4 linked regions of the Homo sapiens genome follow. The protein of the gene in region 1 purifies or fractionates together with the protein of each later gene. This does not show direct contact. Each region holds a gene or a part of one and is shown in the gene's direction. Other genes may lie near its edges.

What was found. The genes of interacting proteins can lie anywhere in the genome.
Region 2: the proteins of PGM1 (region 1) and EXOC2 fractionate together in Homo sapiens (co-fractionation; one large-scale study listed by BioGRID). This does not show direct contact.
Region 3: the proteins of PGM1 (region 1) and ARCN1 fractionate together in Homo sapiens (co-fractionation; one large-scale study listed by BioGRID). This does not show direct contact.
Region 4: the proteins of PGM1 (region 1) and ANXA11 fractionate together in Homo sapiens (co-fractionation; one large-scale study listed by BioGRID). This does not show direct contact.

What each region holds. Positions count from the first base shown.
Region 1 is NC_000001.11:63,596,411-63,599,910, forward strand, and holds part of PGM1 (phosphoglucomutase-1), read left to right. Parts: intron 1-3,500. UniProt on the Homo sapiens protein: Catalyzes the reversible isomerization of alpha-D-glucose 1-phosphate to alpha-D-glucose 6-phosphate. The mechanism proceeds via the intermediate compound alpha-D-glucose 1,6-bisphosphate.
Region 2 is NC_000006.12:487,140-490,639, reverse strand, and holds part of EXOC2 (exocyst complex component 2), read left to right. Parts: intron 1-1,601; coding exon 1,602-1,661; intron 1,662-3,500. UniProt on the Homo sapiens protein: Component of the exocyst complex involved in the docking of exocytic vesicles with fusion sites on the plasma membrane.
Region 3 is NC_000011.10:118,578,909-118,582,408, forward strand, and holds part of ARCN1 (coatomer subunit delta), read left to right. Parts: intron 1-2,337; coding exon 2,338-2,601; intron 2,602-3,500. UniProt on the Homo sapiens protein: Component of the coatomer, a cytosolic protein complex that binds to dilysine motifs and reversibly associates with Golgi non-clathrin-coated vesicles, which further mediate biosynthetic protein transport from the ER, via the Golgi up to the trans Golgi network.
Region 4 is NC_000010.11:80,195,538-80,199,037, reverse strand, and holds part of ANXA11 (annexin A11), read left to right. Parts: intron 1-3,500. UniProt on the Homo sapiens protein: Binds specifically to calcyclin in a calcium-dependent manner. Required for midbody formation and completion of the terminal phase of cytokinesis.

The sequences.
Region 1 (3,500 bases):
CACACCTGGCTAATTTTTATATTTTTAGTAGAGATGAGGTTTCACCATCTTGGCCAGGCTGGTCTCGAACTTCTGATCTCAGGTGATCCACCCTCCTCGGCCTCCCAAGGTGCTGGGATTACAGGCGTGAGCCACTGCGCCTGGCCTATTCCCTAGGTTTCTACGCTCAGGTTGTTCTCTGATTTTGTTCACTCTCTCTACTCACTCGGGATTTAAATATGCTACTCTTTCTCTTGTGATATGATTCAGTCCAGATGGCATCTTCAGAAACCTTTCTTGACACCCCATCCCTACCACTCTTCTCCACCTATTAAGTGCTCCTTTCCCATAGATAATTCTAGAATATATATATTAAATTCTAGTGAAATTTTCCGTTTACATGTCAACGGCCTCCAACTAGAGAGTAAGCTTCTTTAAGTCAGACCTGTGTTTTACCTGTATCTGCAATGCCTAGGACTATGTAGCATTCAATGAATTCTTGTTTATTTGCTCTGAACTGTGAGTCACTTTTGTATTCTAGCACTTGATTTAAAGCCAGCATGTAGCTGGTGACCAATAAATTTATTCACATCAAACATTTATTATGTGCTTGCTTTGCCTCAGACATTGTACTTGAGATACAAAATATTTTTGCCCTTGGGAAAGACATAGTCTGGGAGGGGTGGTATACAGGAGTAAGCAGACAGCACAATGTGTCAGGTGTTGTGATGGAGGGATGTGCAGGTGTCTTTAACCTGAGGGGCTGTACTTGGGAGGGGAAGATGAAGGGAGGGAGGCTCCATAGAGGGGTGGTAGCCGAATTGAGTCTTAAAGAATGACTTGGAGTTCCCAGAGTGGGTTTGTCTGGTAGGAGGAATTCTTAGCAGAATGAATACAAATTGAGGGAGTTTAGATTAGATACAAATACAAATTTCTAGTCCTTTTTTGTTTCATCCACAAAGGTTGGGAATAATACATACCTGAAGAGCCTGTTGTGAGGATTAGATGAAACAACATATTTACAAGTACCTCACTTGGAAACTGTTCGAATGATAGGTGTGTTATCAATGTTTTGTTGGTATTAGGACACAATCCAACGTGATGCAGATATGAGCCACCCAGATGGTCTCCCACCTTCCTCTAATCCTCAACAGCCTCAACCAATATAGAGGGGTTCCGTGTTAGTCAGAGCCCAATTGGGTACAAATGACAAAAACCTTACTTGGATTACTCCAAGTGAAAAAGGAATTTTATTGGCCCATGTTACTGAAAAGTCCAAGAGAATCCCAACGAATTCTTTAGTTGAAACTATTCCTGGTCTCTAAAAATCACTTCTGGGTCTAATGATCTGCAAATGACCAGCATCAGAAATTGAGGAGAGTTTAAGCTCACAAATGAATGTGTGCATGTTTTGAAGGATGATTTATCACCACCCTAAGCAAAATAAAATAAATACCTTTGTGGGAACTTATGAGCAAGGAGGGTATTTGTTGTTGTTGTTGTTGTCAAGTTACAGGGATTCTTTTGTCACGGCTCCTTTGCTACTCATTTGTGCAAACTGTGGAGCCCCTTCTCAGAATATATATTTTTAAAAATTTGAGACATGGTCTTACTCTGTTGCCCAGACTGCAGCACAGTAGCGCGATCGTGGCTTACTGCAGCCTCAGTCTCCCCAGGTTCAGTTGATTCTCCCACCTCAGCCTCCTAAGTAGCTGGGGTCTACAGGTGCATGCCACCATGCCTGGCTAATTGTTTTATATTTTTTGTAGAGATGGGGTTTCACCAAGTTGCCCAGGCTGATCTCGAACTCATGGGCTCAAGCGATCTGCCTGCCTCGGCCTTGCCTCCCAAAGTGCTGGGATTACAAGTGTGAGCCATCGTGCCGGGCAGAGTATTTTTATTTTTAAGTGAATAAAACAAAATACAAACCATTACAAAGGAAGCAAAATTATATTGAAGTATAATCAAAATATTAAAAAACCAGATTTGTGATATATCAAGATAATGCTTCTTTACTGACATAGGAAGATTTGTGGAGGATTTAATACTGCCTTACTTCAAAGTAGTGGTGAGTATAAATGATGTTTTGAGACGTCTGCAATCTCAGTATTTTGAGATAACTATAATAGGATATGAAAATATAATTTTTATTGATGATAAATTCCTAGGTAGTAGTAGTAATAGTAGCAGTAGTAGTAATAATACTGTGGTTTGCTTCCTACATTTATAATAAAAGGAGGTGCTAAATTTCAGTTAGATGTTAGTGAAAATAAAGATTGTTTTGTTTATTTTGTCATTCATATTCATGGATCCCATTGAATTCTACCCAAGGACCTCTTGAGGTAGGGGAAGGGGATGTAAGCATCCCAAGTTAAGAACCCCACACTAAACAATGATCCTTTTTTAGCATCAGGTGATGCCTGCACCAAAATGGACCTCAAACACATGACCCAGAGGTTAAGGGTCTCATGTTCTCAGAGCAAACTAGTGGGACTTTGCAAACTTCGCCTTATAGTGGAGGAACTCCACTGTCTCCCGCTTGAAGTGAACCACCCTTTTCTGAACTTTCATGAGATCCATCTGCAAACACTGCTGAAGGAACATGTTTCTGGCTATAGCAGTTCACATTTCTTGAAAAGGAAATAAAAGAACACTGAGCAGGAAGGGGAAGGTTTTGAGACTCTTGGGTAGTTGGAGTTAGGTGGAGACACCTTGCTACTTTAACTTTAAACCTTATATCCCTGGGGCAGGGATGACTTGGCAGAGAAACACCTTCAAGTCACTTTTTTTTTTGAGACACTGTCTTGCTCTGTTGCCCTAGGCTGGAGTGCAGTTGCAGGATCTTGGCTCACTGTAACCTCCGCCTCCTGGGTTCAAGTGATTCTTCTGCCTCAGCCTCCTGAGTAGGTGGGACTACAGGCGTGCACCACCATACCCAGCTAATTTTTGTATTTTTAGTAGAAACGAGGTTTCACCATGTTGGCCAGGATGGTCTGGATCTCTTGACCTCATCATCCGCCCGCCTCGGCCTCACAAAGTGCTGGGATTACAGGCGTGAGCCACCACACCCGGCCCAAGTCACTTTTTAACATGCTGTAACCCCCACTTTAAAAAAAAAAAAAACCACTTTTTAATTATGGTGGGGCCGGGCATGGTGGCTTACCGCACTTGAGTGGGTCACTTGAGCCCAGGAGTTCCAAACCAGCTTGGACAACATGGTGAAACCCCTTGTCTACAAAAAATAAAAAAACTTAATCTGGTGTGGTTTCGGGCGCCTGTGGTCTCGGCTACTTGAGACACTGAGGTAGGAGGATCACATTCACCCTGTGAGGTCAAGGCTTCAGTGAGCTGTGATTGCACCACTGCACTCCAGCCTTGGCGATGGCAAGACCCTGTCTCAAAAATAAATAAATAAATAAATATAAAATGAATTATGGTGGGCTTTGAACAATTGTTCTCCCCTTGTTTACACTTTCTGATTTTGAATCAGCACTGAATGCCAGTATGGATAACCTATTGTC
Region 2 (3,500 bases), on another chromosome or scaffold:
ATTACCTAGGAAATACTGGGTTATAGTGTTGATGTGCCTGAGAAGCCAAGTCGTATGCAAATGAAATGTTTGAGGACACTGTAATATGCTTACTCACTCATTTCCAGCATCTGATAACATGGCTTGCTGTCATTCTGTCAGCTTTGCAACTGAAAATACGTTTTCCATTTTTTCCTAACCAATGAAGTTAGCCTTTCATTCCCGTCGGTCACAGCTCACCAGCAGCCATTTTTAGTGGGCCATGTTCACTGTTGAGCCACACCTTTTCCCAGCCATCGTTTGTCTGTACAACATACTAACAGGATGGAAAGCACCCAGCCCATGTTGGATGTGTGCACACTTCATGCAAATGCCTACCCTCTTCCTGCTGACTTAGTTTTAGAGTATAAGGTACTCATCTATAGAGGAAGTTTAAAATATTCTAGGCAAGCTTTTGAGGGTGTTAAATGAGAAAATGTGCCAAATCACTTTTTAATTTTCAGTACCCTGCCAATAATATGTAGTATGTTTATCATTATTGTCATACTGTCAAAACAATTACATCACATTTCTTTCAATTAATCAAAAAGAGGTTCATAAGAAACAAGCTGATGGTGGAGGTAGCGGCAGTGGCTTCCACACCAGGAAAGAGGCCGCTGAATGTGGGAAGGGACCCGAGTGCGCCAAGCCACCCGTCCCACACCCCACCGCGCCCTCCCGGGAGCAGCTGGAGATGCCCAGCACCGGGTTTTATGACTCTGTTGGAACTTTTCAGTCTTTCTCTCTGTTGCTGTGACACTTGCCCCTGATTTGAGGAATATTGCTCAAAAACGTATTTCCTGGTAGATTGAGGATGTTTTTACAATATAAAAGCAACGACCCCCTAAAGTCAAGAATTGCAGTATTTCTTCACCTTAACCAATCATAAGAGAGATAAAAGAACTGTTCCTTTGTGAATGGTACAAGTTAATTACCACAGTCTCCCCTATGATGCTTTTCATTTGGTTTGGTAATTTTTCTAATACTTTCTCCTTGTAAAAGCTAAACATCCCACAGTTTTCTTTTTAAAATTCTTTCCTTTTACCTTCATGTAAAGAACTTACATTGAATTTTTAAAGCATCTATATAGCTCTCCATTTTTCTACAAGTTTTAAGTAGACTGTAATTATTACAAGACATTGGCTGTAGATCAGGCCCTGTGCAGGCCAAATACTGTAAACACCCCACTGTGTCATCTTTCAGAAGGTCATCCCCATTTCTTAGAGTAACTGGATTATCCCCAGCTGCTTGTTTTGAAAAGACTCCTTTTAAATTAAACATGTTCACATTAAGCTCTCCTCTATCACTAGCATCCTTTCGAAGATGTTTTTCCTTTAGCTTTTCAAGTAGCGTTTCATTTCCTATTTGAGTTTTTCTGACCCCGTTGCTACAAAGCCTCCACCTGGTAGCTACACCTTCGCTTTTACTTTTACTTTTTCTATTGTTTTTCACTTTTACTTTTTCTCATATTTCCTTGCTTCACTGGCTTTTATTGGCTTCTCAATAATTAAGGGATGCTTAAGAATTTGTCAGCAGTTCTCCTGTGCAAGGCTTCAACTTCAGTGTGGCTGTTTGTGTTTCAGGTCAAGTTTTAAGCAGGCTTTGGAAGCCCTGCCCCAGCTTTCCAGTGGAGCAGATAAAAAGTAAGTCCTGTGTGCTGTTCTTAGGAGCCAGTTGAATGTGCTCAACAAGGTTTTGTTTCCTAAAATACCTTTTAAAAATAATGATTTGGATTCTAGGAAGAGCAGAATCCAAATAAGAATCAGAATAAGCAGATATACCTACTTAATAGCGTTAGTAGGTACATCTCGTCACCTGTAACTTGCATGTCTTCTGAGTGACAGAATAAGGTAAGACCTTTCTTCTGGGTTTAGGAGAATTTAGAAGTTGGCTCTCGTTTCAAGTGACTGGTATAGAAAAGGTCTTAAGAAAGCTATCTATGACTTATTCAGTAAACTGTATTAGTAGCATACATAAGAAGTAATGGAAAAAAGAAGACAGCATAGTAAAATGCAGGAGTCGGTGATTTTTTTTTTAATTTTTGAGTAATTCAGTAGTATTTATTTTGTGTTCTATAAAATACAAAATGTTATGAAAGTAGATGTGCACATATGGCATAATAAAGTTTTATATATACATATATATTTCATTAGACCACACTGATGATCTCAACCTGAATTTAAACTTTACTACTCATAGAACAGGAAACGGACCTAAGAGAAAATCTAGGCCAGGTAAATTTCATAAATGCCCAGGCTCCCCCGAGCTGAGGCAGTCTTCATTCCTTCACCACCCGCCCTGCACGTGGCTGCCGGGCCCATAGACAGGCACATGTGGTGCACTGACTGAAATGCTGGCACCGTGAATGCAGTGCAGACTCAGTGCAGGGCAGAGAGATCACATAGGCTGGGCCATGGGGGGGAGCTGTCACATGGCATCGACGCACAGAGCAGGCAGCAGACCAGCCCTTCCACCATCAGTCCCCGGGGGCATCGCCGCCCCGCCCCGCACGCATCCCACGTGGGCACATGGCAGCTGTGCAGACAGTGCCTGCACAATCAGCCCTTTCTTCCTTTTTCTTGCTGCTTCTCTAACTTCCATCCTCTATTTGAATTGGTTCCAAACCCTGTTCATTTCTTTAAAATAAATATGATAAAAGATTGAAACAGTCACTGCTACGTTTCATATGTGGAACAGGGCTCAAAAGGTAGTGTGTCACGAACAATACACACCCTGAAATGGCCCCAGGTCAGGACTATATTTTAGATTTGCTGTGGGGATAGCATTCTAATATTGAACATTGTTAAACCGTGAAATAATCTCTTGACCTCAGTACTGTTAAACCCAGTTCTTGGTTGCTGCATCCAAACCAGGAAAACTCTAAGATCCTTCCTAGCTTTAAAAATTAGATGACTTGGGCCGGGCGCAGTGGCTCATGCCTGTAATCCCAGCACTTTGGGAGGCTGAGGTGGGCGGATCACGACTTCAGGAAATCAAGACCATCCTGGCCAACATGGTAAAACCCCGTCTCTACTAAAAATACAAAAATTAGCCGGGTGTGGTGGCGGGCACCTGTAGTTTCAGCTACTCAGGAGGCTGAGGCAGGAGAATTGCTTGAATCCGGGAGGTGGAGGTTGCAGTGAGCCGAAATCGCGCCACTGCACTCCAGCCTGGGCGACAGAGCAAAACTCCATCTGAAAAAAAGAAAAAAAATTAGATGACTGTATCACATCAGTTGGGGAAACAGATTGCGATATCAGGCAGCAAAGCGATTTGCCTAGTGGAATTAGCCCCTAACCCTGCTTGCCCTGGTGGTTAACTCACTGCTTTCGCTCCCCACTCTCTAATACCTGTTAATACAAAATGAGAGGAAGGGAAAGTCAGCAGTGGCTGCTGGGAGATGGGGTTAGGGAAGAGGCTGACTAGAGGGGCAGCAGGGGAAAGGGTGCAGCCATGCCACGTGCTGTAGCCTGTTACACTCC
Region 3 (3,500 bases), on another chromosome or scaffold:
TAAAAAAAGAAAAATCCATTACCTTGAAGTGGCATAAATTTTTTTCATGAGATGCATGTTTATTATTACTAATGGTGCTGTTTTACATCATGAATATATGTGCTACAAGTTGTATAGCACTTCTGAAGTACAGTTTCATTATAGTCATTTGGCCCTCATAATAGCTTGTAAGGTCATTAGATAATGCTGCATTTTATAGGAAAAGAAACGAGGTTAAGAGAGGTTGGGTAACTGAAGGTCAGGCAGATAGTAAATAGAAGAACAAAACTAGAAAATAGATTTTCTCACTCCCAGTCATTTAGTTTTTCTAATATCAGCTTGGTTCTTTGCAAATTTGGGACACTAGTTCTAAGTCTTTAGGAAAAGGAGAAACCAATGTGAAATGATCCCAAATATAAGGGAATTCCCTACTTTTCTGATGAAACTATTAAGAAGGAAAGCTTTTTGCCAATTGTATAAACTTTTTAAAATGCAGCCAAAATAGGCCGGGCGGTGGCTCATGCCTGTAATCTCAGCACTTTGGGAGGCCGAGGTGGGCAGATCACCCGAGGTCAGGCATTTGAGACCAGCCTGGCCAACCAACATGGTGAAACCCCATCTCTACTAGAAATACAAAAAAAAAAAAAAAAATTAGCCGGGCGTGGTGGCAGGCGCCTGTAATCCCAGCTACTCGGGAGGCTGAGACAGGAGAATCACTTGAACCTGGGAGGTGGAGGTTTCAGTGAGCGGAGATCTTGCCATTGCACTCCAGCCTGGGCAACAAGAGCAAAACTCCATCTTAAAAAAAAAAAAGGTAGCAAAAATAGTCAAATATGTTCTTAAAATAGTTAATAATTCACTTATATGTATATGTTTTAAATAAATAAAGTTTAATTTAGAAATAATTACTTTTTTCCATTTTCATATTAATAAAACAATTTTTTCTAGATTCTTTATGAACATCATGTCATCACTGGGGCCACTTTTTGAATCATCAGTTTGGTATTTAGCAGTTTTGAATCCATGTGTGATATATTGGCAGTTTGGGAAATTTTATCCCAAGTCATAAAAACCCATTTATATAATATTAGGATAGTTGCTTTTAAAAGGAATATTTTGTAACTGATATTCAACACATGAAATTGTGAGTTCTGGCTAGGCGTGGTGACTCATGCTTGTAATCCCAGCACTTTGGGAGGCCAAGGTGGGCTGATCACTTGAGTCCAGAAGTTCAAGACCAGCCTGGGCAACATGGTGAAACCCCACTTCTACCGAAAATACAAAAATTTGCCAGGCATGATGGCACCTGCCTATAGTCCCAGCTCCTTTCAGGGGGCTGAGGCAGGAGGATTGTTCAAGCCCAGAAGTTGAGGCTACGGTGAGCCAAGATTGCACCATTACAGTCCAGCTTAGGTGACAAAGTGAGACCCTGTCTCCAAAAAAAAAGAAAGAAATTGTGAATTCTGATCCTCAGGATAATTACTAAATCCAGTGACCTTTTGTTAGTACTACATGCAAAACTAGCGTAGTTTGAAGATAAGATGTATCCCAGACAATTATTTTAGTTCAATATAAAGTCATTGAGGGAGCACCTTTAATATGAGAGACTATGGAAGGATTCAAAACTACACAACTCTTTTTTAAAAATATATAAGTATTCCTTACATAAAAATATATTACCATGATAGCATATTTTCACACCTAAAAAATTAGCAATAATTTTTAATATTATCAATTATTCAGTCACTGTTCAAATTTGATTTATACATTGTGATTGATTGACATGTCTAAGTCTCTTAATGTGTTTGTATTTTTAGTAGAGATGGGGTTTCACCATGTTGGTCAGGCTGGTCTCGAACTCCTGACCTCAAGTAATCCACTCGCTTTGGCCTCCCAAAGTGCTGAGTTTACAGGTGTGAGCCACTGTGCCCGTGAAAGTCAGTATTCTATTACTTGTCATGTCAGCTGGTCGTGGTAGTTCACGCCTATAATCCCAGCACTTTGGGAGGCCAAGGCAGGAGGATCGCTTGAACCCAGGAGTTCAAGACCAGCCTGGGAAACATAGCGAGATACTGTCTCTACTAAAAGCTTTTTAAAAATTAGCGAGGCTTGGTGGCACACACTTGTAGTCCCAGCCACTCAGGATTTCTTGAGCCCAGGAGTTTGAGGTTGTAGTGAGCTGTGGTCTTGCCATTGCACTCCGGCATGGGTGACAGAGTGAGACCCTGTCTTAAAAATAATACTACTACTAGTCATGTCACTAAATAAATATGTCATTCTATGGAACATTTCCTGAGATGCTGAGAAAACAGATGTGAAGAAATAATTAGTACTTACTTATGCATATGTTCCTGGCAGGTGCTGTTGGCAGCAGCGGTCTGCACAAAAGCAGGAAAGGCTATTGTTTCTCGACAGTTTGTGGAAATGACCCGAACTCGGATTGAGGGCTTATTAGCAGCTTTTCCAAAGCTCATGAACACTGGAAAACAACATACGTTTGTTGAAACAGAGAGTGTAAGATATGTCTACCAGCCTATGGAGAAACTGTATATGGTACTGATCACTACCAAAAACAGCAACATTTTAGAAGATTTGGAGACCCTAAGGCTCTTCTCAAGAGTGGTAAGAGTACTGCTATAATACTGGGTTCCACTTTTTGTTTTACATTTTATGTGAAACTAGTTTTTCCTCCAAAGCAGCTGATGCTAACCAGTTTGCAGGTTCCTACTCCGCACCCCAGCGACTTATTGCTGCAGCACCTTGTTTATTCAGCAGACATTTATTGGGTGTCCTCTTAGACTATAGATGTCTCAAAAGAATATGGGAACTACTGTTTCATTTCCCAGTTCTTAAGCAGTTGTTCTAATCTGCCGTTCTAGTTCTGACACTTGTTTGGCTATGCTTTTTAGGTAATGTTTTTTAGGTAAGACTTACTGATCCAGAGACAGACACACACACACACACCCCTCTTCTAAGACTTTATGCCAAAGTCTTGCTTAAAATGAAGACTTAGGTAAGACTTACTGATCCAGAGACAGACAGACAGACAGACACACACACACACACACACACACACACACCTTTTAAGACTTTATGCCAAAGTCTTGCTTAAAATGAAGGCTAAGGCCAGGTGCGGTAGCATGTGCCTGTAGTCCAAGCTACTCAGGAGGCTGAGGCAGAAGGATTGCTTGAGGCCAGGAGTTCAAGTGCACAGGCATTATACTTTAGTGTGGGCAACACAGCAAGACCCTGATTCTTTTTTTTTTAAAGACGGAGTCTCGCTCTTGCCCTGGCTGGAGTGCAGTGGTGCAATGGTGCAATCTCGGCTCACTGCAACCTCCACCTCCCAGGTTCAAGCAATTTTCTGGCCTCAGCCTCCCGAGTAGTTGAGATTACAGATGTGCATCGCCATGCCTGGCTAATTTTTGTACGGGGTTTCACCATGTTGGCCAGGCTGGTCTCGAACTCCTGACCTCAGGTGATCTGCCTATCTTGGCGTCCCGAAGTGCTGGGATTACAGG
Region 4 (3,500 bases), on another chromosome or scaffold:
TGGTTGAGGGTGGATGGAGGTTGACAGAAGGCAATGATAACAGCAACAAACCTAATTGCATGGTTTCTGTCTTTGGTAGAGGAATTCTGACTGTTGACATACCAGATATACTTGATTTTATTCTTTGCATCTTGCTTATTACTTATTATACTTGCATGCATTCCTTTCCTGATTTTTGCTGTTGGGTTAAGTTTCTCATCGTCATCTTCCCCACGCCACCTGTATTACGTTTCAGGTTTGGTTGTGAATGAAGAGAGGAGCCCCGTCTCTCTCTCTCTCTCTCTCTCACTCACTCTCTCACTCTTTCTTGAAAAATCAGGGTCGAGGTTAAGTGTGTGTTCCATGAGATTGTCTTGGCACCAGGCTCCTTATGGACTGTTGTCCCTAGCATTCTCAAGGGCTGTGGTTTTCAAACTTGAGCATGTATAAGAACAATCTGGAAGGCTTGTTAAAGCATAGATTCTTGGACTGCACCCTGAATCATTCTAATTTAGGAGGTCTGTGATGGGACCTGAGCACGTTAATTGCTTACAGGCTCCCATATTGTATAATGCCGCCGGGCCACATGTTGGGTAGCACCGTCTAGGTGCCTCCCTTAACTGCATGGCCCAAGACAGCTCACTTTCACATCCCCATGGCAGGCCCTCCTAGCTGCTAGGGGTCTGGAAAGCAGTCCTTAGTGGGGGCTGCTGTGTGCCAGGCTATGGTGTGTTCTGTTACTAAAGCAAGAGAGAACAGATGGTTGAGGAGGACAATCAGAAGTTTCTGGAACACCACCCACTGCTCTCCTGAATTTGAAACTACTACTATGCTTATCAGTCTTGCTGTTGGCTAAGCCTGTGTTCCTCAGGTTAGGAAGTGGGAATGGTTTCTCATGACAGTGGCAAGCCCGCAGGCAGTGCAAGCAAGGCAGCTTCTGTTCCTGTGGGCTGGTGCACAAGCTGGCAAGCTGCTGTGGCTTTGCTGATGCCCCGAGAGTCATCTGCTGCTCCCAGCCGTCAGGTCTGGCATCCGCATACTCCATTGCTGCAGCCACCACCAGATCTTCCAGACCCCATGGGATCGAGGGGCCCCCTCCAAGACCCAGTGGGATAGGGGTTATTTTTTTTTTTTTGAGACGGAGTCTCACTCTGTCGCCCAGGCTGGAGTGCAGTGGCATGATCTCGGCTCACTGCAAGCTCTGCCTCCTGGGTTCACGCCATTCTCCTGCCTCAGACTCACAAGTAGCTGGGACTACAGGCGCCCGCCACTGCGCTTTGCTAATTTTTTTTGTATTTTTAGTAGAGACGGGGTTTCACCATGTTAGCCAGGATGGTCTCGATCTCCTGACCTCGTGATCCTCCCGCCTCGGCCTCCCAAAATGCTGGGATTACAGGTGTGAGCCACCGCGCCCGGCCAGGGGTTATTTTTTTGTGCTACCTCCTCCCAACTTCCCTTCTTCAACCCCAAATATGACACCTAGGTGACTGTTTCTAGGAGAGTTTGAGGGCAGAGGCTATTTGAACCCTGAACTGAGGTGGGGGTGATGTTCGGTCTCCGTGGCTGGTAATATCCTTGAGAGATCAGAGCAGTGGTTGCCAACCCCCATTCTCTGTTGTCATCACACATAGGGAGGGGATCTGGAGAGAAACAGGGTCATAAGGCTCCTATGGAGTGGCTGGTACTTTTCTGAGTGGCTTGATTATATGGGACATTATTTGGGAGGCAGTAGTAACTTTCTTCTCTTTCCGGGGTTTAACCTTTGTATTTCTCAAGTCCATTCTCCAGCCTGAGAAGGTGTGATGGAGCCCAGAAATACGTTGAGTGGTTGGGGACCAGCCTGGTTCATAATGCACTGGCCTGGAAATCCAGAGATGTGGTTCTAGTCATTGTCCTGCCCCCAGCCAGCTCTGAGACCTCAGGCAGAGTCTTTCTGCTCTCTGGGTCTCAGCTCCCACCTCAAATAAAATAAACAGGTTGAATGAAATGATTTCATGAAGGCCCTTTCCAGCTCCAGTATTTTAGGATTCTTATGTAATCCAAATGCTAGTGCACTGGGAATTGACTTTATCTTGAAGAAGTGTCTTTCAGAACCTGCTTGCTCAAGTTCAGCCCCTTGGTGAGGCTCCGGACGCTGCCACTCTCCCAGCCTGCCTTGTCTGGAGTTTCTCCAGGCTGAGCTGCCCCAGGTGCCAGCCCTCAGAGGGGAGGTCTGAGGTGCAGCCTGGCTAATGATTAACATACGCTACAGCTATTTTAGTTCCTGGCATGTGGGTGGGGAGTTGAATGCTTAACAGCACCTGTGTAGGCTTTTTGTTTAGTGCCTGGGAAAATATGGTCAGGGTTGGTGGAGTGCTGCCCTGAGGCTGGCTGGCTGGCTTCGGTGACTTAATGGCACCTGTGACCAGCAAGGGCAGGACATTGGGGCTCTGGAGTGCACGCCCAGGGCCCCCACCCCCTTCTCAGTAGAGCTGGAGATGTTCATACTCCCACTCACATCACTTAAGGTCCTGCCTTGAGGTGGGGGAGAGAGGGGAATGTCCTAGATGTGTCCTCCCTGCCCCCAGAATTCCTGGGGCCTACGTAATAGAGGCTACCGAAACAGGTGCCACCCAGAGAGTGAAAGAAATGAGTCAGAGTCCACCGGGGTTCCTGCCAGTATTCAGTATGTGTCAAGGGCCTCACAGTGCCAGCCCTGTGGCAGGTGGTGGTGGGGGACAGGAAGAGAGGCCTGTCCTACAGCCTGTAGCACTGATGCTCTCATGGGGAGGCCTAGAAAAAAAGTGTCTGGCTCTGGCACTTGGGTGTGTGACCTTTGCATGTCAAGAGTCAGCTCAGCCTTCGTTCCCTTGCTTATAAAATGAGGATGATAATACCTATCCAATAGGAGCATTGTGGAGGTTAATGAGGTAATATATAGGGATGTAATATATGTATCTATCCTAGGAGTTAGAAAAAGGAGAGCTTATTAGAACATTAGAGAACATGGAAAACATTTTAGGACAAGTGCTGTGAGAGTTCCAAGAAGAGTGAGCATTGTGGATAGGAGATCAGGGTGGGCTTCCTGAAAGAGATATGGTATGGTTTGGCTGTGTCCCCACCCAAATCTCGAATTCCCTCGTGTTGTAGAAGAGACTTGGTGGGAGGTAACTGAATGGGGCAGGTCTTTCCTGTGCTATTCTCGTGATAGTGAATAAGTCTCACAAGATCTGATGCTTTTATAAAGGGAAATTTCCCTGCACAAACTCTCTTCTCTTGTCTGCTGCCATGTGAGACGTGCCTTTCACCTTCAGCCATGATTGTGAGGCCTCCCCAGCCACGTGGAACTGTGAGTCCATTAAACCTCTTTCTTTTGTAAATTGCCCAGTCTTGGTTATGTCTTTATCAGCAGTGTGAAAATGGACTAATACAAGGTGGAACTTCATCTGGACTCAGGGAAGGCCAGGAGACAGGAGGTCAGACCAGCTAGAGGGACCACCTAAGCAGAGGTGTCCTGAAAAGGGAAAGTGCTGAGCTGGGCT